Linked DNA regions of Homo sapiens. The protein of the gene in region 2 purifies or fractionates together with the protein of the main gene of each other region. This does not show direct contact. Each region holds a gene or a part of one and is shown on either strand. Other genes may lie near its edges. The genes, in order: ACOX1, CAT and HSD17B4.

Region 1 (10,254 bases), on a different chromosome or scaffold from region 2:
TTAATTTATACGAATTTTGGCTGAAATGTCTTCCTCTCACATGTTATCTCATTCTTCTCATTAGTACAGAATTCAAGAATGTTGAATTGGTGTGGTTAACACAATACATATGACTTGAAATTGGCATACTTGCAACTCAGAGATGGGTTTAAAAAGACAGTTAACATCCCTGTTAAATTCATATATTGTGATCTTAAAAATGTGATTCTAAGTTGCCTTTATATTTTCTTTCAGTTGCTGTAAATAAATGTAACAAATCAAATACAGAAATGGAACATGCATGACACTTAGATTTTCAACTTAATAGGAAACCATCAGATAGTGTGGGAAATTCAGTGTCTTGGTTATCAACCAGTTGTAGCTCATCTACAGGTGTTTTTTGTTAGATTTTGTTTTTCTCTGAGATATGAGAGTTTAAAGGACTGTGCAGGAAATTTTTCCTTGTGCCTATTTTTTTCCCCATCTCTTAACTGAAGTCAATGTAATTTATCTCCTTAGGAACTCACCTTCGAGGCTTGGAAACCACAGCCACGTATGACCCTGAAACCCAGGAGTTCATTCTCAACAGTCCTACTGTGACCTCCATTAAATGGTGGCCTGGTGGGCGTAAGTGAATTTTTCAGCATTTATTGGATGTTTTGAAGGTTTGTCATGAGATTTTGCTTAGAATGTAGAGCTTTTATGATAATGTCGGCCAGACTTGGTGGTGAAATCCTAACACTTTGGGAGGCTGAGGTGGGCAGATCACTTGAGGTCAGGAATTCAAGACCAGCCTGGTTAATATGCTGAAACCCCATCTCTACTAAAAATACAAAAATTAGCCGGGTGTGGTGGCGCACACCTGTAGTCCCAGCTACTTGGGAGGCTGAGGCAGGAGAATCACTTGAACCCGGGAAGGTTGCAATGAGCCAAGATTGCACCATTGCACTCCAGCCTGGGCATCACAGCAAGACTTTGTCTCAAAAACAACCCAACAAACAAATATATGTGTGTGTGGTGTGTGTACATAGAGGGGTGTGTGTGTGTGTATATAGACAGAGAGAGGTGTGTGTGTGTATATATATATATATATATATATATATATATATATATAGAGAGAGAGAGAGAGAGAGAGAGAGAGAGAGAGAGAGAGAGAGAGAGAGAGAGAGAGAGAGGAAAGCCAGGCATAGCGGCACATACCTATAGACCTATAGTCCTGGCTACTCAGGAGGCTGAGGTGGGAGGACCACTTGAGCCCAAGAGTTCAAGCCTGCAGTGAGCTACTATCTGTGATCATGCCACTGCACTCCAGCCTGGGTGACAGAGTGAAACCCTGTCTCTTAAAAAAAAAAAAGAAAAAAATTTAAATAGTTTTAACACAAACTTTTTTTTTTTTTTGAGATGGAGTCTCACTGTGTCACCCAGGTTGGAGTACAGTGGTGTGATCTCCGCTCACTGCAACCTCCACCTTCTGGGTTCAAGCGATTCTCCTGCCTCAGCCTCCTGAGTAGCTGGGACTACAGGAGCGTGCCACCACACCCAACTAATTTTTGTATTTTTAGTAGAGATGGGATTTCATCATGTTGGCCAGGCTGGTCTCAAACTCCTGACCTCTGGTCTGCCCGCCTCGGCCTCCCAAAGTGCTGGAATTACAGGCGCGAGCCACCGTGCCCGGCTGACCCGAAACTTTTATATCTTCTTATTCCATTCTGAGTTATTATCTTGGAATATATATTTCCAATACAGTTAGTGGTTGAAGGATTTTGTTATTCACATTATATATTTTATTTATTTATAATTTATATGTAAGAAGCCACATGTAGCTAGTGATTACTGTTTTGGACAGCACTGCCTTAAGGGATAACAAGGAAGTAGTTTAAATTAATATTCTTATTTTTATCCTAAAATTTTCTCTACGTAAATGTATGAGAAATAAGTAGAAAAGAAAGTAATAACTATTAGCTTAAGGGAATTTCTTTCTGAAAGCTAGGTGTGATGCTGTCAGCAGAAAGGCTTTCTGGACACATACTATTGGTTTAGTCTAGTGTTAGATTTAACATATTCTTTCTTCTTTTTTCTACCCTTTAAAAATGTATGAACGTTTGCCCACCCCTCCCTTGTTCTCTTTGATATTACAGTTGGAAAGACTTCAAATCATGCAATAGTTCTTGCCCAGCTCATCACTAAGGGGAAATGCTATGGATTACATGCCTTTATCGTACCTATTCGTGAAATCGGGACCCATAAGCCTTTGCCAGGTAAGAACTGTTCATCTGATGTTGAGATGAAAATGAAACTGAGCACTTTCTTCTGCAAAAGGTAGAATGCCCAACTGAAGAGGCGGAGCAAAAGCCAGAAATTCCAGAGCATAAACATCTCGTGACTGTCCTTTCATCTGTGGTAGGAATTACCGTTGGTGACATCGGCCCCAAATTTGGTTATGATGAGATAGACAATGGCTACCTCAAAATGGACAACCATCGTATTCCCAGAGAAAACATGCTGATGAAGTATGCCCAGGTATGTTTTGATAGAAAATAAAGCAGAGGCATCAAACAGTGGAGTTGAGTGGCTGTTACTCACAATAGGGTTAGAATGGTCTGTTCTTTTAGAAGGTAATAACAGCAGGGCACACTGGCATATTCCTGTTATCCCAGCACTTTGGGAGGCTGAGTGCGTGGATGACTTGAGCCCAGGAGCTCAAGATCAGTCTGGGCAACATAGTGAGAACCCATCTCTACAAAAAGTAAAAAAATCTAGCTGGGTATGGTGGCACACGTGTGTAGTCCCAGCTACTTGGGAGACTGGGGTGGGAGGATCACTTGAGCCTGGGAGGCCGAGGCTACAGTGAGCTGTGATTATGCCACCGTACTCCAGCCTAGATGACAGTGAGACCTTGTCTCAAAAAAAAAAAGGAGGCTGGGCGCAGTGGCTCACACCTGTAATTCCAGCACTTTTGGGAGGCTGAGGCGGGAAGATCATGAGGTCAAGAGATGGAGACCATCCTGGCCAACATGGTGAAACCCCATCTCTACTAAAAATACCAAAAAATTAGCTGGGCGTGGTGGTGCGCACCTGTAGTCCCAGCTACTCAGGAGGCTGAGGCAGGAGAATAGCTTGAACCCGGGAGGCGGAGGTTGCAGTGAGCAGAGATCATGACACTGCACTCCAGCTTGGCAACAGAGTGAGACTCCGTCTCATAAAAGGAGGGAATAAGGCTGGGCGCGGTGGCTCATGCCTGTAGTCCCAGCACTTTGGGAGGCCAAGGAGGATGGATCATAAGGTCAGGAATTCAAGACCAGCCTGACCAATATGGTGAAAACCTGTCTCTACTAAAAATACAAAGATTAGCCGGGTGTGATGGCACACGCCTGTAATCTCAGCTACTCAGGAGGCTGAGGCAGGAGAATCGCTTGAACCCAGGAGGCAGAGGTTGCAGTAAGTCGAGATCACACCACTGCACTCCAGCCTAGGCAATACAGCGAGACTCTGTCTCAAAAAAAAAAAAAAAAAAAAAGGAGCTAATAATGCATTTTTCCTTCTGATGCCCCTTTTTTTTTTTTTTGAGAGAGAGAGTCTCTGTCACCCATGCTGGAGTGCAGTGGCGTGATCTTGGCTCACTGCAACCTCCGCCTCCTGGGTTCAAGCGATTCTCCTGCCTCAGCCTCCCAAGTAGCTGGGATTACAGGCATGCGCCACCACACCCAGCTAATTGTTTTGTATTTTTAGTAGAGGTGGGGTTTCACCCTGTTGGCCAGGCTGGTCTCAAACTCCTGACCTCAGGGGACCCTCTTGCCTCGGCCTCCCAAAGTGCTAGGATTACAGGCATGAGCCACCGCACCCAGCATTTTTTGGTTTTTTTTTTTTTTTGAGACAGAGTCTTGCTCTGTCACCCAGGCTGGAGTGCAGTGGCGCAATCTCAGCTCACTGAAACCTCCGCCTCCCAGGTTCAAGCGATTCTCCTGTCTCAGCTCCTGAGTAGCTGGGATTACAGGCACGTGCCACCACACGCAGCTAATTTTTGTATTTTTAGTAGAGATGGGGTTTCACCATGTTGGTCAGGCTGGTCTCGAATTCCTGACCTCTTGATCTGTCTGCCTTGGCCTCCCAAAGTGCTGGGATTACAGGCGTGAGCCATCACGCCCACTCTGATGCTTCTTTTACTGCGACAGTGAAATCAGAAACAGTTGTCAGGGTTGAAGGACATATTTTGATTTGCTAAACCAATGATTCTCAAACTTTTGCATGCGTTAGAATCACCTGGAAGGCCAGTTAAAGCCCAGGTTGCTAGGCCCTACCCTGGAGTTTCTGATTCAGTTGGTCAGGGTGGGGACTAAGATGTAGTATTTCATGCAAGTTGCCAGGTGATGCTGATGCTGCTATTCCAGGGACCACACTTTGAGAACCACTGAACTGCCTCTTGGGCTTAAAAGAAGGAAGTATCAGTTCCACGTTCTTCTTCCAGGTGAAGCCTGATGGCACATACGTGAAACCGCTGAGTAACAAGCTGACTTACGGGACCATGGTGTTTGTCAGGTCCTTCCTTGTGGGAGAAGCTGCTCGGGCTCTGTCTAAGGCGTGCACCATTGCCATCCGATACAGCGCTGTGAGGCACCAGTCTGAAATCAAGCCAGGGTAAGGATAGGGTCCTAGATGGGCTCAGTACCAAAGGCCTAGTTTTTACCCCATTCAGATCCCAGAATTCCCAAATGTCAATACAGAAGATGCATTAGCACTGCAAAATTGGCTAGGGTGATAACTGGGCCTGTAATTTCATATCTAGGCTTCCTTTTCTTAAGAGGAAAGACAGAAATAACCACCCTTGCTATAATCAGTGACTGCCAAAAAAGAAAAAAAGAGAATACCCACCTTATTATTTTTAACTTTTTAAGAAAAATAGTAATAATATTACTTGAACTTTATAAGTGAAATGTTCAACACACTAAAGGCAGTTTGAAAGTTCTGATTACTACTAGCAACTGTAAATTGTGCATGGTGAAAGTGACATTAAATTTGTTTCCCTTTTGCATTCATAGCCACAGTTTATTCCTACAACTGCCTTTCACTGATACTCCCTGATACTCTTTTTACTCCTAAGGAATAAAGAAACTGGCCAGGTGTGGTAGCTGACACCTGTAATCCCAGCACTTTGGGAGGCTAAGGCAAGAAGATTACTTGAGCCTAGGAGTTTGAGGCCAACTTGAGCAACATAGTGAGACCCTGTCTCTATTTTCTTTTCTTTTTTTTTTTTTTTTGAGATGGATTCTCACTCTGTTGCCCAGACTGGAGTGCAGTGGCGCGATCTCAGCTTGCTGCAGTCTCTGCCACCCTGGGTTCAAGTGATTCTCCTGTCTCAGCCTCCTGAGTAGCTGGGATTACAGGTGCACGCCACCATGCCCAGCTAATTTTTGTATTTTTAGTAGAGACGGAATTTCGCCATGTTGGCCAGGCTGGTCTATTTTCAAAAAAATTAAAAGTTAATTAAATTTTAAGGCCAGGCGCAGTGGCTCACGCCTGTAATCTCAGCACTTTGGGAGGCCAAAGCGGGTGGATCACTTGAAGTCAGGAGTTCAAGACCAGCCTGGCCAACATGGAGAAACCCCACGTCTACTAAAATACAAAAATTAGCTGGGTGTGGTGGCGGGTGCCTGTAATTCCAGCTACTCGGGAGACTGAGGCAGGAGAATCACTTGAACCCAGGAAGTGGAGGTTGTAGTGAGCCGAAATCACAACACTGCACTCCATCCTGGGTGTTAGAGACTTCATCTCAAAAAATAATAATAATAATTACATTTTTAAAAAGGAATAAAGGAATTGATACAATGAGACCCTTGCTAATTCTTACACTTCAAAATATTTAACACCATCCATTGGGTCTTCTCCAAGATTGTGGTCAAAATACAATGTATTCAGCCATCTGGTGAGTAGAGCTTTTTGGCATTGCCTTCTTATTAGGTTGACTAGCGTTGGTTTTGTATGTTGCTATGAGCTACGGTTTTCTTAGTCATACTGGAAAGACTAGGACAGATATGGACTTTGCAGCCAGAAAATTCTGTCAGCCTACGCAGTACAAGGTAATTACAGCATGGTCTTAGGGAGCCAAATAGCCTAGGCACCGTGGCTCATGCCTGTAATCCCACCACTGTGGGAGGCTGAGGCAAGAGAATCGCTTGAACTTGGGAGGCGGAGCTTGCAGTGAGCCAAGATCGCACCACTGCACTAAAGCCTGGGTGACAGAGGGAGACTCCATCACAAAAAAAAAAAAAAAAAAAAAAAAGCCTCAATTTAAATCTAAGACCTGCCACATACGAGCTGTGTGACCTCAGGCAGATTCTTAACCTCTCAGTTTCCCATTTGTAAAATGGAGATAGTAATAGTAACTACCTCACAGTGCCCTTAAGAGGACTAAATAAGTTAAAATACCAAGTGCTTAGATTAGAACCTGGCATATAGAAAGTTCTGTATAAACATTTACTTACTACTTTTTTTCTTTTTCTATGTCACGTAGTGAACCAGAACCACAGATTTTGGATTTTCAAACCCAGCAGTATAAACTCTTTCCACTCCTGGCCACTGCCTATGCCTTCCAGTTTGTGGGCGCATACATGAAGGAGACCTATCACCGGATTAACGAAGGCATTGGTCAAGGGGACCTGAGTGAACTGCCTGAGGTATGAGTTTGGTCTCATTCACTCATGGGCACCCTTCTGTTTCGTGGTTGCCTGTTGGATGAGGTCCAGAGATAACTAAATGTTGGTATTTCCTGAAAAGAAGTATGTATTCTGAGAACTTCTTCTGGTTGAAAGTAGATCAGATATGAAGATCTGTGGGGTTTGTTGTTCAGTATTTTTAGTGTTATCAGAAATACTGTACCATGTTGATTATTTGTCAATCAAGGAAATGTAAGTGGTGAATGTTTAGCCAAGTAGAACAGCTTAGATGGGCATGGGTAGTGTTCTGTATTCTTCTGGCCAGTCGGACAGCTGTGCTTCTTCAGTTTGCATGTGTGGCAGCTGTGTTTTGACAGTGGCCAAGATGTTAGAGGAGGGGTGTGTTTTCTCATTGGTTCTCGGGCTCTCAGCACCACAGATGTCCTGACAGATCTGTGCTTGTCCTCTCAGCTTCATGCCCTCACCGCTGGACTGAAGGCTTTCACCTCCTGGACTGCAAACACTGGCATTGAAGCATGTCGGATGGCTTGTGGTGGGCATGGCTATTCTCATTGCAGTGGTCTTCCAAATATTTATGTCAATTTCACCCCAAGCTGTACCTTTGAGGGAGAAAACACTGTCATGATGCTCCAGACGGCTAGGTGAGAGTCAAATCCTCGATTCCTCCCATCTGTTCATAAGAATGTTCTAGTCCTTTTCCTAGGTTCTTGTTCCCATGGTTTTTCTTCACCGTATATATATATTTGTTCCTGAAAGGTATACTTTTGCCTTCCATCCTGACTCACGGTTTTTATTTCGTGGTGAGGCTAGAGAGTATGAAGCACCTGTTACATAGCTTGCAGTTGTATCAAGGATAGAGTTACTGGGCTGGGCACAGTGGCTCATGACTGTAATCCCAGCACTTTGGGAAGCTGAGGTGGGCAGATCATGAGGTAAGGAGTTCAAGACCAGCTTGATCAACATGGTGAAACCGTGTCTCTACTAAAAAAATACAAAAAAATTAGCCGGGCATGATGGCACATTGCCTGTAATCCCGGCCTACTTGGGAGGCTGAGGCAGAAGAATCGCTTGAACCTGGGAAGCGGAGGTTGCAGTGAGCCAAGATTGCGCTATTGCACTCCATCCTGGGCAACAAGAGCGAAAACTCCATCAAAAAAAAAAAGGCCAGGTGTGGTGGCTTACTCCTGTAATCCCAGCACTTTGGGACGCCAAGCCGGGTAGATCACTTGAGGTCAGGAGTTAAGAGACCAGCCTGGCCAACATGGTAAAACCCTGTCTCTACTAAAAAAACAAAATATTAAAAATTAGCCAGGAATGGTGGCAGGTGCCTGTAGTCCCAGCTACTTGGGAGGCTGAGGCAGGAGAATCATTCATTTGAACCCAAGAGGAGGAGGTTGCAGTGAGCTGAGATCTGGCCATTGCACTCCATCCAGCCTAGGCAACAAGAATGAAACTCCATCTCAAAAGAAACAAAAGAAAGTAGAGTTACTAAAAGCATGTTTACTGGTGACTTTTAGGTTCCTGATGAAAAGTTATGATCAGGTGCACTCAGGAAAGTTGGTGTGTGGCATGGTGTCCTATTTGAACGACCTGCCCAGTCAGCGCATCCAGCCACAGCAGGTAGCAGTCTGGCCAACCATGGTGGATATCAACAGCCCCGAAAGCCTAACCGAAGCATATAAACTCCGTGCAGCCAGGTGAGCTCTCCCTCAAGAGCTAGAATACGCAGCAGTGGGGCTGGGGCCCTGACAGATGGCAAGAAGGCATGAGTACTGTTGATCATTTCCTCAGACCTCCAATCTATGTCTTAACAGATTAGTAGAAATTGCTGCAAAAAACCTTCAAAAAGAAGTGATTCACAGAAAAAGCAAGGAGGTAGCTTGGAACCTAACTTCTGTTGACCTTGTTCGAGCAAGTGAGGTCAGTGGTAGTTCTCTCTTTTTCCCCTTCCCTGCCCTCAGCATCCCGCATTTTCTGGTACAGAAACCCTAGTCACTGTATATTGAATCTTTTTCCAAGGTTCTCAAACTCTGGTGTTTTCTTTTTAATCTTAGGCACATTGCCACTATGTGGTAGTTAAGCTCTTTTCAGAAAAACTCCTCAAAATTCAAGATAAAGCCATTCAAGCTGTCTTAAGGAGTTTATGTCTGCTGTATTCTCTGTATGGAATCAGTCAGAACGCGGGGGATTTCCTTCAGGTCAGTATTTTCTAAGTATAAGTCTTTTTTGTTGTTGTTTTAAGAAAAATAATTGTTGGCTGGGCACGGTGGCTCATGCCTGTAATCCCAGCACTTTGGGAGCCCAAGGCGGGTACGGTGATCACTTGAGGTCAGGAGTTCAAGACCAGCCTGGCCTGGTGAAACCCTGTCTCTACTAAAAATACAAAAATTAGCCAGGTGCAGTGGCACATGCCTGTAATCCCAGCTACTAGGGAGGCTGAGGCACGAGAATCATTTGAACCCTGGAGGCAGAGGTTGCAGTGAGCCAAGATGAAACCACTGCATTCCAGCCTGGGTGACAGAGCAATACTCTGTCTCAAAAAAAAAAAAAAAGAAAAAGAAAAATAGCCAGGCACAGTGGCTCATGCCTGTAATCCCAACACTTTGGCCAAGGCGGGCAGATCACCTGAGGTCGGGAGTTCGAGACCAGCCTGACCAACATGGAGAAACCCCATCTCTACTAAAAATACAAAATTAGCCAGGTGTGCTGGCGCATGCCTGTAATTCCAGCTATTTGGGAGGCCAAGGGAGGAGAATTGCTTGAACCTGGGAGGCGGAGATTGCGGTGAGCCAAGATCACACCATTGTACTCCAGCCTGGGCAACAAGAGTGAAACTCAGTCTCAAAAAAAAAAAAAGAAAAAAATAATTGTCATCCGCTTTATAGCTGTATATGCATATAATTATGTCTATCTATATACATATATATGTTTTATTTACTTATTTTGGTCTCTTTTAGGGGAGCATCATGACAGAGCCTCAGATTACACAAGTAAACCAGCGTGTAAAGGAGTTACTCACTCTGATTCGCTCAGATGCTGTTGCTTTGGTTGATGCATTTGATTTTCAGGATGTGACACTTGGCTCTGTGCTTGGCCGCTATGATGGGAATGTGTATGAAAACTTGTTTGAGTGGGCTAAGAACTCCCCACTGAACAAAGCAGAGGTAAAAATCCAGTGTCTCTGCACCTTTTTAAAAGTCTTCACTTAAATATTGAAGCAGGAAAGGCCTCTCGAAGGGGATTTATCTGTGAAAGCTCTGAAAGTACCATGGCCACTTCTGACAGTCACTTTATTTGAGCAACAGGTTCAGAAGGGAACTGGGTTGTTCCCACAGTAACCAGGGTCTTAATCAATTTCAATTTTTGATAACGAATTGAACATTTAAAAATATATACAGGCCGGGTGCGTTGGCTCACACCTGTAATCCCAGCACTGTGGGAGGCCGAGTGGGCAGATCACCTGAGGTCAGGAGTTCGAGACTAGCCTGGCTAAAATGGCGAAACCCAATCTCTACTAAAAATACAAAAAAAGCAGCCAGGCAGTAATGGTGCACGGCTGTAGTCCCAGCTACTCGGGAATTCTCCTGCCTCAGCTTGAACCCAG
Region 2 (10,254 bases):
ACAGCCAGTCTAGTTGGTAGCCTTGGAGTTATGCCAGCCTGAACTCAAATTTCTACTCTCCTAGATAATTGTGGCCTTGGGCATAGTATTAAAAGTTCTTTGAGCTCCAGTTCTTTTCACTGTGAAGTTGGCATAATATTACCAGCTATACAAGTCCTGGAAAGATTGGATTGCTTGTGGGTCTTTTATCCTAGGGCCCTAAGGTAGCCTGAGATCTACATGGATTCATCAGTCTGGATTATTCTGACCTAAGATTATTCTTTTCTAAACCTAAAGGATTCAGTTAAAATCAGAAAGGTATTGCAGTGTTATTGTACTACTTAATATATTAGCTCTTTGGGCGATCTGTACATGGTGACCTTCATTGTTTTAATCCTGAAGGTGGCTTTACTTCTTGTTCAGTAGTAAGAGTTCAAACCTTTTCACTGATGAGACAGTTGGGATTTCTGTGGTAGAAATAGACCAGCGTTCAGAGTTGATTTTTGCTAAGGAAATCTTTCTGCGGCACTTGGCTTGTTGGGAGGTCTTTGAGAATAAGATCACATGGTCAGTCCATCAAAGAACAGTATGATATGATAACAGGAGCACTTATGAAGTGACACAGCTTCTCTGGGTTTTAATGTCTTGCTTGGAAAGTCAGAATATTAATTTTGCCTGCTCATAGTCAGAGAACTAGTTCCAGGTGGCTGTACTGAAGTTCTTTTCAACTCTATGAGCTATGATTCTATGATTTATTAAAAAAAAAAAAAAAAGGAATAGGACAGGGGTGAAGGGATACTGGCCGAGCACAGTCTCAGTAATTGATTTGAGCTGTCATGAAATGGAATTAAAACATTACTTCATGATAAAAGGCAAGTAGTCCTTTAATTTTATTAATCTTTTGCCTACTTTTAAGTATATTTTGATTTTTCTGATTTGGAAAGTAACATGAGTGTAAAAATTCAAATAATAGAATACATAAAGGGAAAGATAGGACTGATTTTAAATATGAAATGTGTAGATGGGATTCCCTTGACATTTAAAAGTATTGGGATAATCAAGTAGAATTTCTTGTTGATAAATTCATTAGTATCAGATTTGAACAATAGAAGTATTGTTGTAAAGAAAGTTCATTCTTTGGGCAGTGTTACTCATAATCCTTCAATGAATTACTGATGAAATTTTGATAACTTTGACAATAAGTTTCCATTGGAGCTTCTTTCTTTCATTTTGTAGACTGACCAGGGCATCAAAAACCTTTCTGTTGAAGATGCGGCGAGACTTTCCCAGGAAGATCCTGACTATGGCATCCGGGATCTTTTTAACGCCATTGCCACAGGAAAGTACCCCTCCTGGACTTTTTACATCCAGGTCATGACATTTAATCAGGCAGAAACTTTTCCATTTAATCCATTCGATCTCACCAAGGTGAGTCAGTAAACAACTATATTGTTTTCTTTTTTAAGTCTCTTCTTACCTAATTAGAAAAAAAATCTAGTCAAACAATTATAATAATGGGGAAGTCATATACAAAATACAGAGGGTACCACTTCAGAGTGTCCTAAGCTGTGAATGAGTGCTTACCAGCATCTTACTTCCACGTTCCTGTTTGTCATTTCATTGAGTATGTGTATGTGGCTTCATATATTGTTATTAACAGGGAACAGATTATGAAAAGCTGATGTACTTTTTCCTGGGGAAACTGTCAGTATTTACCACTTACTATTGTGAAAGATTTAACTAAGGCACTCATCTTAAATTCTTATGTTTTATTGGATTTAAAAATTATTTTCATTGGCTTGATTGTATTTGAAATCTGGTATTTTTGTGGGTAGCTTTGATTTCCTTCAGTTGATTGCCTGGTAATTGTGAATATGACATCATTTTCAGGTTTGGCCTCACAAGGACTACCCTCTCATCCCAGTTGGTAAACTGGTCTTAAACCGGAATCCAGTTAATTACTTTGCTGAGGTTGAACAGATAGCCTTCGACCCAAGCAACATGCCACCTGGCATTGAGGCCAGTCCTGACAAAATGCTTCAGGTGAGCCTGGTGGATTGAGATGTTCTGAGGCAGGTGTCCATGTGAGCATGCACACACAAAATATGCAGCTTGGCATGATCTTTATGTGAGGAATTAACAAGAACATTACTTAAACTTTAATCTGGGTGCTTGGTTACCTTGTGGGATTCACTGAGGTGAACTATTCTTCAATGAGCATTCCTTGAGTAAACCAAGTATAAACAAAAGTCCATGGTAAGATCCCTACATATGTGAAGACAAGAATACTTACTCTCTTAATTAAAAAAAAAAGACATAATAGAAATACCTTAAGTATTGATAGAGTGAAGCATGGTTTGTTCTGTCTGTAGCTGAAGTATGGTTAATTAATTATAATACCTTGGTAAGCCTAACTTTATTTTCTTGTTCTTTTTTTTTTTTTTTTTTTTTTTTTTGTGACAGAGTCTTGCTCTGTCGCCCAGGCTGGAGTGCAGTGGCATGATCTCGGCTCACTGCAACCTCCGCCTCCCAGGTTCAAGCGATCCTCCTGCCTCAGCCTCTTGATTAGCTACAGGCGCCCGCCACCATGCCCAGCTAATTTTTGTATTTTTAGTAGAGACGGGGTTTCACCCTGTTGGCCAGGCTGGTCTCAAACTCCTGACCTCAAGTGATCTGCCTGCCTCCGCCTCCCAAAGTGCTGGATTATAGGCGTGAGCCACCGTGGCTGGCCTCATTTTCTGTTTCATGGTGATGCTTGAATTTTTCCATTTGTAAAAAGAGATCTAGGGATGATCTTTATGAACTACATGTATGCTGCCAGTGATAAAAGCAGTGGATTAACCATTCACCTTGCTAATGTTAAGCCATCAGTATGTTTTACATCACTTTTTAATATCTCTTTCAAGAGTACCAAGAGTGAAAAATTGTACTTTGGATCAGAATCAGTAAGAAAATAATTGGCTTAATAATTACTGTATAAATCAATCTTTTGTGGTTTTAGACTGTGACCTTGAAACAAAGGTTAAAGATTGTACCCTAAATCAGACCACAGCGACTGAAGGTTACTTCTTATGTAAGTATCTGATTCCAGTTCAGGTTTCAGTCTGCATGGAGGACAAGCTAAGATTCCGTTTTTAAAAAATAACTTTTTTGCTTATGACATTGGGGAACATCTGAGGCTTTTATAGAAAGTAAGTTTTTCATTAGTTTTTAGTCCAATTCAACTGTTACAAATTGAGTACCTGTCTGTTGTGTATGGTGGACTGTCTTGGGTGCCATAATGTAAGGCAGAATGCCATGGTGATCCAGAAAGCAAAATTTTGTCTGATAGGAGGTCAGCCACGAAGTTTCATGAACGAGGTAGCATTTGAGATTGTTTTGAAGAATAGATAGGATTTTGATTTTTAGTAGGTAAAATGCGGCAGGAGAAGGACATGAGTATAGGCACAAAGGTGGGACATGTTAGGTGTGTTGAAACTATAAACAGTCACTCTCTCCTGAATGAGAAGAATAGAGTTTGGGTAGGTTCATTGAGTATATGTCAGAGGGGACCTTAAATGCTTGAGTAGGAGTGAAAAGCTTTCTTCAGTTTTGAGAAGTGTGGTCTGGGATATATTGAGTAGAATCACTCCTCTTGGTGATAAATAGAAAAAGCGACAACTAGGGATTGGGAATAGCAAAAGGAAAGTCAGGCAGTTCTCAGAGGAAAAGCAGAAGTTTGCATTGAAACCAGGGAGTAGAGGAAGCCAAAACAAGGTAATCCTGGGCCCTAAAACTCCCTACCTGGTGGCTGAACTGTGAGAGGATGAGGCTAATGGGATTTGCCAAGGCATGAAATTGTCATGGGCAGAGCAGAGGCTGCATAACCCTGGTTACCCAGGGAGGGAACGGATTGAGGAATACAAGGTTACCTAAACTCTTTTCACAAGAATCCAAGTCACCATGGGTCTCTGGAACCACAGTGGGACCGTGAGGCAGTCAGCAGCACTGAGTCATATAATTTGAAGAACAATGAAGATTTGAATGGAGAACTAGGCCCCCGGGAAAAGGACTGCAAAGCAAATACGTATTCTCTACATTCCTAAGAAAGCAAATGTCTAAGGCAGCTATTCAAACAGTGGGGAAGAGAGTTCTGAAAAAGGATGACAAGTAGAAAGTAATATAATTTCTGTTAGTATTAATTTTAGTTCTGGCAAATATATCTATTTTAAATTCAGTGTACTCTTTATAGGTTGTTTTTTTTTTAAATGAGTTTTAGAAACTGTTCGAAAGAGCTTTCATAAGTTTGTCGAGTTATTGTTTCTAGCCTAGCTTTCCCCCATCCTTCTTAGGTCATTTAGCTATCAGTTCCAATACCATGGAGCCTGTGAGGAGCCATACAGTTGGGGAAGGACTGTTGTACTCATTTAGCCATTTGGTGACCATTAAGGAATGATTTGAGATTTTTTGAGTAGGTGAGTAGGGAATATGTAGATTGTCTTGTTGGACAGGAAGTGGAAAGCCAGTTAGGGGGGCTTTGGGGTTATTCCTGCTGAGAGCTCATGAGTATTGTAGCCTAGGCAGTGGCGGTTGATATATTAATGGGCAGTGTTTACAGGTGCCTTTTAACAAGGTCATGTTATTAAGTTTTATAACTTTATCCAAAGTGGTGAGCCACACCATGGTGAAATGGACAAATAATATAATACAAGTCATAGAGAGACTGTCCTGTCCCCTGAGTACCTGAGGACACAGGTGCAGCCTTTCTTGCTCTCATTCTCTGCATTTTGCCAAGAGTTGGAGAAGTTGGGCCGGTTGCTTGGGTGGGAAAGGCTTTCCCACTCACGCAGGTCCAGCAAGGGAGTTCAGGCACAGGGCCTTGGGGAAGGCCTAGATTCAAGCTGGTGTCAGGGTATGGCCTCACTGTGCCCATTTCCCAACCTTTGTTGGTCTCCACCCATAGGTGGGGTAAGGTTGCCTGATAAACACAGGGTGACACAAAATCAGAATTAGGTGATAGAGGCTACATCCAGGAGCTGCCCATGGCAGGATTGTATCTCCTATCCTGTTGATGGAGTCAAGAGCACAACTTTTTGAGCCAAAGGAGACAACCAGCTTCCAACCTATAGCTGAGTTTTGGTCATGGCCGCATGGCTAGTCATCTAAATATGACCTTAGGCTATTTGAAATGATGATAAGAGGGAGTCATTCAGCCAAAAGCAAAATATTGACAGAACACTGGGACTGGATTAAGTCTGTTGGTATCAGTGATTTGGAACAAAGTTATTGCTTAAGTTGCCCTATTCAATTTGGTTTTTATTTTGCCTCATAGAATTAGGGATATAAAAATACTTTTAAGGTTCAAGGCCAATGATAAATTCAATGGAAGAAAAATTGCTCATAGAAAAGGAGTATGAATAATGAGAATAGTTCAATAATTAGATATTAAGATTAATGCAGAATTTATCATAAAGCTTTTGTTTGAGCATTAACTGAAAGAAATTTCAAGATGCTTGCCATCTTTGCCTTGATTAACATGGAACATAATTTAATCTTAGATTGATTACCTTTGGCATTGTAGGGCTTTCATTTTGAACCACAGATTTTTTGTTATTGTTGTTTATATCTAGAAAGTCTCAGAGCTCAAAGTGTTTCTGAGATAATTCAGAAGGCAGCATGGGAGTGGGCGGTACTTTTTTTTTTTTTTTTTTTTTTTTTCTGATCTTGCTTTGTTGCCCAGGCTGGATTGCAGTGACACGATTGCAGCTCACTGCTGCCTCAATCCCCTGGGCCAAGCAGTCCTCCCACTTCAGCCTGTTGGAGTAGCTGGGACTACAGGCACATGCCACCATGCTCGGCTAATGTTTTAATTTTTTTTTTTGTAGAGACAGGTCTCGCTGTGTTGCCCAGGCTGGTCTCAAACTCCTGGGCCCAAGCGATCCTCTCACCTTGGCCTTCCAGAGTGCTGGGATTATAATAGGCATGGGCCACTGTGCCCAGTTGGAAGTGCTTATTTGAAGAATTTCCCATGCTGTTGGTTTTGTAGAAATGTGTTGCTTTTTGTAAAGAGCAAATGATTGGTTCCTTCCCTGGAGTGGGGGAATGAGGAGGAATAGAATTAATTCAATATTTCAGTTAGTTAACGTTCTAGCACATTTATTTTATAATGCAATACTTCCTTGGGAATAGGAAGTAATACTGTATAAGACAAGACACTAACTTGTTATGCAGAAGGAAAAAAAAAAGATATTATTACCAAAAACAGATGTGAAGATTTATGGTTGGCCAGAGGGCCTGGGAAATTCAGAACTGTTCAGTTAGGGAGAACTCGTTTCATAAGAGTAGAGGCTTCACTCTTAAGTAGCGGGAAAGGCAGAATTTTGTGGTAACCATGTACAGAGTGCTTTGTACTTCAAATTTCAGAATGAAGTTTACAGCCCATTCCTATGTTATATGTTACTGCCCCTAGTCAGTGTCTATTGTATTTATTACTGCAGGGCCGCCTTTTTGCCTATCCTGACACTCACCGCCATCGCCTGGGACCCAATTATCTTCATATACCTGTGAACTGTCCCTACCGTGCTCGAGTGGCCAACTACCAGCGTGACGGCCCGATGTGCATGCAGGACAATCAGGGTAGGCCTAAAGACGTTGGGCTCCCCCTGCGTGGGCAGAGGGCACGTGGAGCAGATGGGCGGGAGGCCAGGCCAGTGGCTCTCAAGCTGGCCCCGCAGGACCTCCTGCTTGGTAAAGGTGCTCCCCAGGTGCTGCTAACTGGGCGCTTTTTTGCCCAGCAGTGAAGATTTAGGCTGCCTGAGGACTCTCCATGCTTTTTATCTATTTTATATATTTTATTGAGCATTTCCACCTCAGATGTTACTTGTATCCAGTAGTTAAAAGCAGGGAGAAAGATCTTTCACACTGGCTAGAGTACAGTAACATCCAGCTTGGGAGTTAGGTTTTGAAGACACTTCACCAAAATGGACAATTCCTTAACTCACTGTGAAATCACCAAGACTTAGACCCTTGGAAGTGCGAAAGCCAAGAGTTGGAGTCTTCTGTTTCTCTTTGCAGTTCTGCTGTGGCCCTGGAGGAGCAGGTCTAGCTAGAATTTGGAGGGGAGCTAGAATTAGCAGGGAAGGCTGGGGAGAAGAGAGTAGGGGAGGCAGAGCAAGTCAAAGGATTCCCCTCCCTTCATTTTTTCCTAAGTGAATAAAGTTAGGTGAATCAACTTACCACTTTTTGTTTTTTGGAACTCATTTATCAAACTTAGGATCTTTTTCTTTTAACTACTTTTTTTTTGGTGTCGTATACAAACAGCCTCTGGTTCTAATTACTTTTTCTAATAAGTCAAGCAGAATGCTTGATTAAAGTTTTTTCCTTTTACTATTCCACAGTTTAATATAGATCTTAGTTATTTTCTTTTCCCATTTAGGACACGTGTTTTAGTAATATAGACTGCATGCATTGATCCCTTTAGAAATTTTACTGATGATTTATATTTATAGCCACAGATGTCTATATTCAAACAAAGTTTATTTTTCTATGATAAAAATAATACAAGTGTCCTAAAGAAAATTTGGAATATATAGGAAAAAGAAGAAAAAAGAAAAATTCCCATATAGTCCCAACACCCAAAGGTCATAGCTATTACATTTTGCTATATTTATTTATCTATTTATTTATTTTTTAGACAGAGTCTCACTCTGTTGCCCAGGCTGGAGTGCAGTGCATGATCTTGGCTCACTGCAGCCTCTGCCTCTGGGTTCAAGAGATTCTCATGCCTCAGCCTCCCGAGTAGCTGGAAGTATAGGAGTGTGCCACCACGCCAGCTAATTTTTGTATTTTTAGTAGAGACAGGGTTTCATTGGCCAGGCTGGTCCTGAACTCTTGACCTCAGGTGACCCACCCACTTTGGCCCCCCAAAGTGCTGAGATTACAGGCATGAGCCACCGCGCCTGGCTTGATTGTAAAAGTAGAGCATTTGGGCTGTGACCCTGAAGCTCAGTGAAAGAGCTTAATTGTTCCTGTGGTCAGTGCTTTAAAGACAACTACCACTTTGAGTAAAGGTCAGGGCTCATTTGGAAGTAGGATTTTAAAAATTAACTAGGCACATTTCAAAGAGCTAGTTCTTAATGAAGAAAACACTGTGATGGCTGGTTTTTGGAGCATTTTGCTTTTCATGTAGATGTGACTGATCTGTTGAATTTGTTGAGTGAATAATTGGGCTCTATAATAGTATGGTGTTCTTCCTTCCCCTACACACACACTTGGTGTCTTGATGAATGTCATACATAGGCACCTCTTGATTATCCACTGTGGATAATCTATTACGGCAGTGAGCTGGCTAAAATTCCAACCCCAGATTGGTTTGCTCAAACCACTTAATATGTTTCTGGGCCACTCCTGTTTAGGCAGTGTGTGCTCGGGTAATGAAAGCTTCTGCTAATGTCAGCCAAAGCATAGTTGAGAAAATAAATATGCTAAAACGAAAAAAAAGCCTTATAATTTATTTCAAAAGTCATAGAAAATATTTTGATTGTATTTGTCACTGTTTCTTATAAGTCCAGATAAGTAAGTGCTGATATACAATTACCACATTTTAAAAAATTCTTTGTTTATTGGTCTGTGGAGGGTATGAAAGTGAAGCTACAATGGAACAAAGTCATCATTGTCAGTAAAGGAGAGATACCCTGAGAATCCTAAAAACACTTTACGGAATAGCAAAGTAGAGTTCTGTAATGGAAATACTGTATATGCTGGGCTGGAGGAGACAAAAAACCCAGAGTTCCAACCCCATATCTACCACTGGCTACCGTGTGACCTTGCAGCAGTCAGGTCCCATCACAGAGCTCCATGCTTGTGTCTGTAGATTCAAGGAGCAGAACCAGAACTTTCAGATTTCCCTCAAGAATTTTGTGATGCAGTGTTTGAATTGAGCCCAAGTCCAAATGACACAATTTTTCAAGTCAATTTTGAAATGTGTCTTTGAGCCTCATCCCTATATGGTGGCCAAATCAAGCCTGTATAAACTTCTACATGTGCTGTACCCCTCAGAAGACTTGATAGATGAGACCCTTTGAAGTGTCAAAAGGGACTTTGAGATTCATTCATAAAGTGCGGCAGCCTGTGCAAGCATTTAGCAGATGGCAGCGTTCCCTAAGAATCTTCATACTACCTGTAGCTAAATGCGGGAAATTAAAAATAATATGTGTGCGTTGTGTTTATATCTGTGTATGTGTACGTGTGTATTTGATTACCACTTGAATTTATTTCTCATCACAGTGATTATTTGCAGACTTACTTGACTTTTCTTATTCCTAAGTGCATCTGGGTGGTTTTGTTTTGAAGGTGGTGCTCCAAATTACTACCCCAACAGCTTTGGTGCTCCGGAACAACAGCCTTCTGCCCTGGAGCACAGCATCCAATATTCTGGAGAAGTGCGGAGATTCAACACTGCCAATGATGATAACGTTACTCAGGTAATGACTTCTCTTTATCTGCTATGGAAGTCACCTGCTAATTCTCCTTGTCAATGCCTGCATAATCCCCCTCCCTGCAAATGCCCCAACTGTCTGATGTATCTTAAATTGAATTCAAGGAAGACTCATCTGTAATAGTAAATTGGGCCCCTTACTGGGTGGAGTTGAAGGGTTATATTACTCTGGTCTTTTGCCTCAAAGCATGCAGACTCCGTCTCAGTTTCTTCAAACTTTATTGAAGGGATATGGGGAGGGGGCATTGGGGAAACAGTTATCTCATGGGAATTTAAGAAATGAGCATGTACAGCTTACGTGGAGACAAATCTAAGAATCTGGGCAGGACAGTCCAGGTTCAAGGACTAGAACTAGAGATCCAAAATAGCTCCAGGAGCCTCGGCCACAAGAGTGTGGGCGTTTCCACTGCAGGGCTCGTCCTTCACGTGGCTTATTCTCCATCTGTCTGCTTCTGCTTGCCAATGCTAATTGATTATTTTTACCACAGCTTCCTGTTTTCTCCTATCTGCGTCAGAGCTTCTGTTTTATCATGGTTGTGGCTCTTCCACAACAATGGAAAACTCTCCTTTATGGCGTCTTTCTCCATTATTACTTTTTTTTTTTGGACCACCTTTTACTCCTTCTCTCAACATGTCTATCTCTAGATTCTAGAGAGATGGAATCCTATTGACTTGGCTAATCTTTTCACCCCAGGTTGCACCATTGGCCTTGGTCAGGCTCTAGTTAACCGCCCCAGGGCAAATGCTCATCCTCTTTCCAGTTGCCTATGGCTGCCCTAAGAGCTGTTTCAGCACATGCT
Region 3 (10,282 bases), on a different chromosome or scaffold from region 2:
GTTATATGTGTCTCCCTGAACAAACTGATGAAAATTCGTCTCTCTGTATTGCCTCGTTAAGATGTCAGAAAGCTGAAATTAGAAGATCATTGTGGGCCCACAGTTTTATCCCAGGAAATATGCTAATAAGTACTGGGTCCTACATATCCCCCTGCACTTAGCACCCATTTAGTTATTCCCCAGAAAGGCTCAGTTGTGGACAAATTCGTTTCTGTGTCCACACCAACTGTCAAGCACATTAGATCAGTCCAAACCATGCAGATTACTAAAACCTCCCACCTTTAGGATTCTTCAATACAGTATCTTCCATCTGACCCCTCCACAAACAAAAACTCATGTAACTGCCCCCTCAATTAAATTTTTTTAAAACACTTCCAGCTGAAAAGTTTTGATGAAAGAGTCAAGAAACCCATACTTTAGATTCCTTGACTCCAAACTTCCAGTTCTCAAAATTCAGTTATTTCTTACTTTTATCAATACACTTACAGGGGCTCTCTTTTGATCTCGCACCAGTAGACAAACCTCCTGTCTCAAAAAATTACAGCCTACAATTTACTGAAGTCAAGAATTTCCTTTTATACAATAAATGCTTGTCCCCACCCTTTTCTGTGAGAAACAGGGTTTTTTTTGCGCCATCACCCAGATTGGAGTGCAGTGGTATAATCATAGTTCTCTGCAGGCTCGAACTCCTGGTCTCAAGCGATCCTCCCACCTCAGCCTCCTGAGTCACTGGAGTTATAGCCACAAGCCAGCATGCCTACCCCCTAGCCCTTCGTTATCAATTCTGTTAAGCTGGGAATTCTGTGAAACTGGTTCCCTTTTAAAAGTAATTTAGACAGACAGCCTTAGTCGGGGTAAAAACCTTCTGGCAAAAGTAAAAATTAATAATAAAATTCAACCTTGACAAATTATTTGATAGAAAGACAAAGATAGCTTGTAAAGATTGTATTTCAGTTATCAGCTACAGATTAAAAAGAAAAACACACCAACTTACCAACAACTAACGCTCCTCTTTCTGCAAAAGCCAGGGCATAGGCTCGGCCCAATCCTAATCAAAAACAAAATAATCAGAAAGTTGAAGAAATGTCAGCATAATTTTTTTGGTCCGCTCAACTCAATCCCCATTTAAAGAAATTGGTGAACAATTAATTACATTTTAATGATACTCTCAACCTATCCTATCACTGACATTCTCAACCTATCCACTCTCTTCTGCTTGCAGAGGCTGGAAAGCTTAAAACTGTATTTTTCCACCTATTCTACTACCACTTCCTACCATTCTACTTAGCTGCTAGGATGCTGTGAATTGGGTTCCACCATCTGATGCATCTGCATAAAACTTAGAAGGTGTAAGTGAGACAGAGACCACCTTACTGGGAGTTCTGGCTGTTGTTGTTAAGAAGCTAGTTTTCTTGAAAGTTCCTAGGTATTCAGAAACTGACTATAGCAGCGACTTCTTCATTCAGCTCCCTAATCCCTGGATGGCAGCTTCCATACTTCAGGTCCCTAGTGCCAGTGCTACTTGGGCTGTGGCACAGCTCCAATGACAGCCTCAGAGGTATTGCCTCCTCTAATGGATCAATTTCCTATTGTTTCAGGAGTTATTCTAAGAAGACCTGCCTAAAACCTAATTGCCTGTATTGAATCCTTTGCTGCTTAAAATATCTAGTGGTTTCTGTATCCCACAGTGAACCCTGACTACACAGTCATCAAATACAGAAAATATTTAATTCTGACTCAAAGCTACAAGGTGTAAATTTATATATCCAAAAAGAAATTATATATATATATATAGAGAGAGAGAGAGAGAGAGAGAGAGAAAGTTTTGCTTTTTTTCTTTTTTTTTGAGATCCAGTCTCACTCTGTCGCCCAGGCTGGAGTGCAGTGGCATGATCTCGGCTCACTGCAACCTCCACCTCCCAGGTTCAGGTGATTGTCCTGCCTCAGCCTCGCGAGTAGCTGGGACTACAGGCGCCCGCCACCACGCCCAGCTAATTTTTGTATTTTTAGTAGAGATGGGGTTTCACCATGTTGGCCAGGATGGTCTCGATCTCTTGACCTCGTGATCAGCCCACCTCGGCCTCCCAAAGTGCTGGGATTACAGGCGTGAGCCACCACCATCCCCAGCCAAGAGAGAAGTTTTATAGGCATAGAGTATCTCGGGAAAAACACATTAGAAACTGGCAATTAGTGGTTACCTCTGGAGGACAGAACTATGTGGCTAGCAATAAGGGGTGGAAGGCTTACTTCTGGATTGTTTTTCTGTATTGTTTACATTTTTTAATATGTGTATATTTTTTACATTTTAAGTTAATTGATAAATTTCATTGACAAATGAATAAATTTAATTAACAATTTATATTTAGTATAAATTAATCAATAAGTATACAAATAACAAACTGAGATACATAAATTATTAGCCCCTTCCAAAAACAACCCAAGGCCAGGAGTAGTGACACACATCTGTAATCCCAACACTTTATGAGACAGAGGTGGGCGGATCATTTGAGGTCTGGAGTTCAAGACCAGCCTGGCCAACAGGGTGAAACCCCGTCTCTATTCAAACCACAAAAATCAGCTGGGCTTGGTGGTGTGCACCTGTACCCCCAGCTACTTGGGAGGCTGAGGTAGGAGAATTGTTTGAACCCGGAAGGCAGAGGTTGCAGTCAGCCAAGATCATGTCACTGCACTCCAGCCTCGGCAACAGAGCAAAACTCCCTCTCAAACAAAAACAAAAAGAACCAAAAATATACAGTTTTCCAAAACTAGGAAATTTCACCAAATAACTTATTTTAGAATTTAATCCAAGCAGAAGGATCACTTGAGGCCAGGAGTTTGAGACCAGCCTGGGCAACAAAGCGAGACTCCATCTCTTGAAAACATTTAAAAATTAGCTGGGCGTGGTGGCACATGCCTACAGTCCTAGCTAGTCTGGAAGCTGATGCAAAAGGATCACTTGAGCCCAGGAGTTCAAGGTTACAGTGAGCCATGATCGGGTCACTGCACTCCAGCCTGGGTACAGAGTAAAACCTTTAGCTCTGAAAAAAAAAAAAAATTTAATCAACTCTGAATGGGTAAGAGAGAATTTAACCAGTTTATGAACAGCAGGTGCTAAGTTCATAACTGTCTAGTCACAACTCATTGTTTCACAAAATCAATTTTGTGGGTTACAATTACAATTTATAAATAAAACAGAATAGAAAATAAATTTCAGGATGCATTGCCTGTACTACACACTATATCATGAACTGGTTTTAAATACAGATGTATGTGCTTGTGTAAGTGTACTGAGTACTGGTGTAAAATGTACTGCATACCATGTGTAAGTATGCTAATGGTGTCAAAAGAAGCAGTCCCTATCCTTGAATGATTTTCAGATATAGCCCCTGAAAAGGAAAGTCTCCTTAGCGATGGCAAAAACGTCTTAGAATGTAATCCCTGGACCTCCTGCATGAAAATTATCCAAGAGCTGTCAAAAAAGATTTAAAACACCAAGCGTTGTAAAATACATTATTTACAATAAAAGCAAAGTGTAAACAAAATGTTTTCCTAAAAACATTTAGAAGGTATGACTACACCCAAATACATGCCCATGCAGAGATAACCAGACAGCTATGGGTATAAAATACTTGGCTATTCATCAACACTGAAAGCATTTTCTGAAAGGCAGCATAAGAAGCCACTTTATCAATACAGATATGAAAGTACATAGGAATTAATTGACAGAATTCCAGTTTGTAACGTTTAATATATAACTCAAATAATTCATGCATTAGGGCCTTTCCAGGTATAAGGTACTACCAGTGGAGAATCAAAGGTGCATAATGTCAAGATCCCTGCACTTGGAGGTTACAGAGGTCACCCACTGGTGAGAAACTAATGTAAAATCTCACTGCACAGCATCTATGTTGGTATGAATGGTTTGTTTTAATTTTTTGTACTTTAAAAAATGGGGCTATTTCACATAACAATTTTCCATTTTGCCGCTCCTGAAATACAGGCAACTTTCCCACTGGCCGGTCCACTTCGGAATTCTCTGCTCTCCAGTTCCTCAGATGTGCCCATCCTACTCCCATTTTCTTTCTCCATCATACGCCTGACCCCTGTGCGCATTTGAGCTTACAACCTCTGCCAAGACTCCAGTGGATTTCGAGAACAGATTGTGACTTGCTAAGCATACAAACTCCAACGGGGAAGGGCTCTTATCAGACGCCCTCTTTAAAGAAGGTCCTCTCACGAACTTAAAATCTTACGACAGAGGGAAACAAACACTGAACGACCGAATGACTTTTCAGGAGCTGACATCTCTGCGCTTCAGGGGGCGAATTCCAGCCCCCGCCCCTCGCGGCTTTTCAGTCCTTTAAAAGACTAGGCAAAGATCTAAGAGAGTTAATTGCAGGAAGAGTAACAATCGATGCCCACAGATAAGGGTCAGGGAGAACTTTCACCCAGTTTTGCAATCAGCAGCCCAGCCTGGCCTCTCCTCTCAGGCAGGACCTTGGGAAGCCCACACCGGGGTGCTGGGGAGAAGCGGGCTGTACCTGCTTGAGAGACCAGGTGTTTCCGGCTCTTTCCTCCTCAAGAGATGCGGTGCCTCAAGAATAACCATTCCCCTCCCCACCACCTCAGCGGGGTGACCTCAGCTGCGGCTGCGCGCGTATGCCGGCCCGAAAAGAGCAGCCAGCTGCGCCTCAGCAAGGGGCGCGGCCTCCAACCTTCGCATGCTCACCTGCCCCCGCGCCGGTGACCAGTACCACCCGCCCGTCGAACCTCAGCGGTGAGCCCATGAATAAGGCCTGCAACGACACACACACGAACAAGCAGAGCCGCTGGACGCCGACTGCGGGACAGGAGGAGGCGGGGAATGGCGGGGGCGGGACGAGGGTCAGTGACTTGCCGATTTCTGGTAGGAAGATGAGCGCAGAGCGCGCGGCTCCCTTGGAATCCTGGGAAATGTAGTTAAGAGTGACTCCACTCGCTGGAAGACTTGCCTTCCAGGGGCCATTTCTGCGGCTGGAAGCAATGGGAGCTGCTAGGACTTGTGTAGAAGAATAGTTAACTCGACACCTTGCGTTCATCTATTCACCTGTCGTTTCATCATTCACTCAATAAACGTTTTCTGGGTTTAGTTGCTGACCTAGAGAAACAGCATGCGGCCCCTATCCTTGAGGGGCTTCCAGAGATAGCCCCTGGGAAGGAAAGTCCCCCTTAGGGATGGTAAAGATTTGTCAGTGTAATAATCCCTGCACTTCTACATGCAAACATCAGGGGACTGTCAAAATGCAGAGTCCTGGACCCCCACTGCTTACCTCCCAAAATAGAATCTCAAGGGGCAAAAACATTTTGACAAGTGTTCCTAAATGATCTTGCGTTTGTATGTTGAGAACAGTCATAGTTCAATCAACATTTACTGAGCATCTCCTGAGTTTTGATAGGATCCTCAAGCTACTCAGAGTCAGATGGTAAACTTTCAATAACGGTGCAGCCTAGACTTGTGACCAATGTGTGTAAGTGAGCTAATGGTGTCAAAATAAACAGACCCTATCCCCGCTGGGGAGAAAGAGGAAAAACTTTCTGAAGGAGGACCAGGACCTAAAGTGGCGACCCCTGCAAAGAAAGAAGGGCATTACAGGCAGCACAAACACTAGCTAGGTTTGGGGAGAAAGAGGGTAAAGCCACAAAAGCAAAGCCAGCAAGATCATGTTTAGATGTTTGAATTTTGTGCTGAAAACGGTTTTAAGTAGGATTACTCCAGAGAGTGGTGGGAACACATTTACACTATGGAAAGATCACTTTGCCCATTATGGAGGATTGATTGGATGTTGCGGGAAGTCATGGACCCCAAACAGAGGGACCTGCTAGAGCCGCAGCAGAGGAACATAAATTGTGAAGATTTCACGGACATTTATCAGTTCCCAAATAATACTTTTATAATTTCTTATGCCTGTCTTTACTTTAATCTCTTAATCCTGTTATCTTCGTAAGCTGAAGGTGTACGTCACCTCAGGACCACTGTGATAATTGTGTTAACTGTACAAATTGATTGTAAAACATGTGTGTTTGAACAATATGAAATCAGTGCACCTTGAAAAAGAACAGAATAACAGCAATTTTTAGGGAACAAGGGAAGTCAACCATATGGGCTGACTGCCTGCGGGGTTGGGCAAAAACAGCCATATTTTTCTTCTTGCAGAGAGCCTATAAACGGACGTGCAAGTAGGGAAGATATCACTAAATTCTTTTCCTAGCAAGGAATATTAATATTAATACCCTGGTAAAGGAATGCATTCCTGGGGGGAGGTCTATAAACGGCTGCTCTGTCTTATGTGGTTGAGATAAGGACTGAGATATGCCCTGGTCTCCTGCAGTACCCTCAGGCTTACTACGGTGGGGAAAAACCCGGCCCTGGTAAATTTGTGGTCAGACCAGTTGTCTGCTCTCGAACCCTGTTTCTGTTGTTTAAGATGTTTATCAAGATAATACATGCACTGCTGAACATAGACCCTTATCAGTAGCTCTGCTTTTGCCCTTTGTCTTGTGATCTTTGTTGGACCCTTATTAGTAGTTCTGCTTTTGCCCTTTGTCCTGTTCCCTCAGAAGCATATGATCTTTGTTCTGCTTTTTGCCCTTTGAAGCATGTGATGTTTGTACCTACTCTCTGTTCTTACACCCCCTTCCCTTTTGCAACCCTTAATAAAAAACTTGCTGGTTTGAGGCTCAGGTGGGCATCACGGTCCTACTGATATGTGATGTCACCCCCGGCAGCCCAGCTGTAAAATTCCTCCCTTTGTACTCTTTCTCTATTTCTCAGCTGACTGACACTTATGGAAAATAGAAAGAACCTATGTTGAAATATTGGGGGCAGGTTCCCCCAATAATTAGAGGTGGGCAAGGAGAACATAGAAAAGATTTGGGGGAAATTATGGAAACCAGAAGTAAGGCAGAGGAAATGTTGAAGAAGAAATGTTGAGATAAACTGTATTTGCAAATGGAACTGACAGGGATAGAAGGCAGGGAAATTCTGGGCAGAAGAGGGCAGGTCCCCAGTGAGGGCTCCAACCTCAAGCCTGAAAACACAGCCCAAAGTGAGAACATGCATCCCTGTTTTCCCTCTTGAATGTTGCCTTTTCCAAAACCACCTATGGTCCCCCTGCCCCCCATCCTGTGCCCATAAAAACCCCAGGCTCCAATGGCAGAGAGGAGAGGAGAGAAGAAACAGCTCGACTTCAGAGGTATGGCTTAATGGCGTTGCTCCTGGGGAAGATCACCTTCTCACTCCATCCCCTTTTCAGCTCCCCTTCCCATTGACAGCCACTCTCATCGGCAATAAAATCCTCTGCATTCACCATTATTCAATTTGTTCCTGTGACCTGATTTTTCCTGGATGCCAAACAAGAGCTCAGGTGCCACAGGTGTGACACTAAAGGCTGTCACACTGACCCTCTGCCCTCACTGGCAGAGAGCAAGTGCCTCACACCAAAAAACAGAGGGCCTACTGAGCTGTTTAACATTTAAGCCATCAGTGGATGGCAAAGTTAAAAGAGCACTGTAACACACACCCTCTGGGGCTTCAGGGGCCTTAGGTACCCCTCTAGACACTGCCAAGGGCCACATAGAGTTTTGCTCCTGCATGCACTGGCCCCAGCTCCTGCACCCACTCACCTGTGCTCCCCGTTCCTGTGGAACGCAGTGGGACCCAGTGAATGGAGTCCACCCCTGCCAGACCCAAAGCGGCCAGCTAGTTCTAGATCCTATGTGCTCCAGTTCCTGCCCCCACCCATGAAGGGGTCAGGAAAATTTCCTGCTTCAGAACTAGTCTTTTTGATTAATTAGATGTAGATATGAGAAAAGAGCAACTGAAATAATCCTATATTTTGATTTGAAAATCTAGATTACGATGGGCCATTCATCAAAATAAATAGTGGAGAAAGAGTGGCTTTGGAGGGGTTATGGCTTCAATTTTAGACAAACTGCATCTGTGAAGGGGAAGCAAAACTATGGCTAGAGACACCTAGCAGACAGCTATGGTTCCAGAGCTCTGACAGCTTGGTTTCTGTTATAAATAAAGTTTTGGTGCCACAGAAGAAATAGCACTCGAATATAAAATTTTTTTTTCTTCTCAGCAACGCAGTTTACTTCTATAGAAGGTTGCACTCTCACAGATGGAGCAATGGTGAGCGCACACCCGGACAAGGGAGGGGAAGGGGTCCTTATTCCTGATGCATGTGGCCCCTGCTGCTGTGTCATTCCCCTATTGCCTAGGGTTAGTCCACACAGGTTAAACTAATTCCAGTTGGCTAATTTAAAGAGAGTGACAGGGTGAGTGGTTTGGCAGGAAAAATGGTTATGACAGAGAGGACATCGGAATGAGCCAGGGTAGAGAATGAGCAGGTAATCAGAATGAGACAGGGTGGAGCAGGTAATCGGAAAAGGTTGCTTTACGAGGAAGTTAAGTTTCAAAGTAGAAGGCAAAGAATTGAATACACTGACATACTGATTCTTTTAAAAGAAATTTAGAACTCATATCTAACAACTCCTCCTCTTGCATTTCCTTACAGCTCTTTCTCTTCAAACTTCTTTAACATGTCTTGGCTTAGTTGTTCTGCTTGATTTTCCAAAAGAATAAGCTTCTCTGGATAAGGTGGAGGATAGTTAAGGGAGGATTTAGTAAGTGCCATTTCTATGAGCCTCTGCACCAACCCACAGATGTATGGTATGATACAGCACCCAACAAGAGTAAGTACACCCATTACGGCTGCAAGGGAAGTTAAGAATTGAGGCTATTATTCCTTTCCATTTACCAAACCACTTTTCTAGGCATCCTGTAAAGGGCCCATTTACCCTTAGTTGCTGGCTAACTCACTGGACAGAGCAGTCAGACCTTGCAATGCCTTTGTTATACTTCCATTAGGGGCGGTATTGTTTGGGATGAAGGTACAACACTGAGTTTTAATCATGATGCAAACTCCTCCTCTTTCTGCTAATATCATGTCTCAGGCTATCCTATTTTCCCAAGCCATCTGGCTAGTAGCCCCTAATTGCTCAGCTATTCTTTTAACAGCATCTCTAGGGTAGTTAATAAATCGCTGTTGGTTGCAATAAATGTAGTTTATCAAACCTACATTTTTATTAATTGTAACTTACCAAAATACTGGCTGAAATCCTGCAGCTATTTGATTTTGGGCTTTAAATTGATCTGGTATTCCCAGTGGGACTCCAATTGCGTCTAAATAGACATGAGAGTTGAAAGACCCATAAGGGGCCTCTTTCACTTTACGATGTCTTATTTTTCCTTCCTCCAGTTGATGAAATGCCAGAGTAAAAGAGATAACCAATTGAATTAGACCATAAGTACTGCTCTAATTATTTGGCAGAGTGTCCAGTAAAGGTCCTCCCTAATACCACCATACAACCAGTCAGGGATGAATAAGGGCAGACTGTTGGGTCAGCTCTTGGAAGTGCCTGACTTCCCTGCATCCTGTTAAGTCTCCAGGGAATGCCAAATTTTTCCCCTTGTCATTGGAGACATGAGGTAAAATTGGCTTTGGAAGATGGAGGCTGGATGGCCCTTGGGGGCTGACCCACAGCGTGTTGAACTTCAGGAAATAGCAGAGAAAGAGCTTGGCACAATTTGTTATTCCAGGCGGTAGAATCTTGAAAAAGAGCTACCATGCACTCCATGTCCAGTTGATTTGAGGACCATCCCAGTGGAAAGGGAACAACCTGGGCCTCTGGCCTACTGTGCACACAACAGTAACAGTCGCTTTTGTTTCAAGTGCGAACGGAATATTTAATCCATTTTAACCAGGGATTTACATCTTTTTACTCTGTTTCAATGGCTATGGTTTGCCTTAGGTCTTCTATTTCTACTACTGAGACCTTGCTTTTGTCATTTGGCATGAGGCGAGGCATAGTTTGATTTCATAGGTTTGGGAAAGGGGCAGTTGTAGGAGGTGGAGGAGGGAGAACAAACCACATCTTAAAGAAACCTATAGGATCCTTTCCAGTGACCTCTACTCCTAAACCATAAAAATGCTCAAAAGTGGGGTTAGAGTTGCTAGTGGTAGGAATAGTAATGGCTATAGGCACTGGATTCAGAAAGGAAAGGAAAAGATAGATAGACTACACTTTTCTTAGCTTTAGTTTGGTAGGGCTTGATCCAGGAACAATGGCCCATGATTCTGATGATAACGGCGCTTACTTGACTCGGGTGTGATGTGTCCAACCCCCTTCCGCGGTACGAACAACAGTCTCAGTGGTTAGCAGCACTAGGTAGGGTCCT

The links.
Region 1: the proteins of CAT (region 2) and ACOX1 purify together in Homo sapiens (affinity purification with mass spectrometry; 2 studies listed by BioGRID and IntAct, with this or other methods). This does not show direct contact.
Region 3: the proteins of CAT (region 2) and HSD17B4 purify together in Homo sapiens (affinity purification with mass spectrometry; 2 studies listed by BioGRID and IntAct, with this or other methods). This does not show direct contact.

What each region holds. Positions count from the first base shown.
Region 1 is NC_000017.11:75,947,811-75,958,064, reverse strand, and holds part of ACOX1 (peroxisomal acyl-coenzyme A oxidase 1), read left to right. Parts: intron 1-498; coding exon 499-606; intron 607-2,117; coding exon 2,118-2,237; intron 2,238-2,383; coding exon 2,384-2,499; intron 2,500-4,444; coding exon 4,445-4,614; intron 4,615-6,487; coding exon 6,488-6,650; intron 6,651-7,100; coding exon 7,101-7,291; intron 7,292-8,167; coding exon 8,168-8,347; intron 8,348-8,464; coding exon 8,465-8,570; intron 8,571-8,704; coding exon 8,705-8,848; intron 8,849-9,607; coding exon 9,608-9,814; intron 9,815-10,254. UniProt on the Homo sapiens protein: Involved in the initial and rate-limiting step of peroxisomal beta-oxidation of straight-chain saturated and unsaturated very-long-chain fatty acids.
Region 2 is NC_000011.10:34,454,796-34,465,049, forward strand, and holds part of CAT (catalase), read left to right. Parts: intron 1-1,215; coding exon 1,216-1,407; intron 1,408-1,869; coding exon 1,870-2,022; intron 2,023-6,455; coding exon 6,456-6,594; intron 6,595-9,309; coding exon 9,310-9,440; intron 9,441-10,254. UniProt on the Homo sapiens protein: Catalyzes the degradation of hydrogen peroxide (H(2)O(2)) generated by peroxisomal oxidases to water and oxygen, thereby protecting cells from the toxic effects of hydrogen peroxide.
Region 3 is NC_000005.10:119,447,081-119,457,362, reverse strand, and holds the start of HSD17B4 (peroxisomal multifunctional enzyme type 2), read right to left. Parts: upstream 4,867-10,282; 5' UTR 4,788-4,866; coding exon 4,730-4,787; exon of another isoform or gene 4,610-4,729; coding exon of another isoform or gene 4,542-4,609; intron 1,049-4,541; coding exon 995-1,048; intron 1-994. UniProt on the Homo sapiens protein: Bifunctional enzyme acting on the peroxisomal fatty acid beta-oxidation pathway.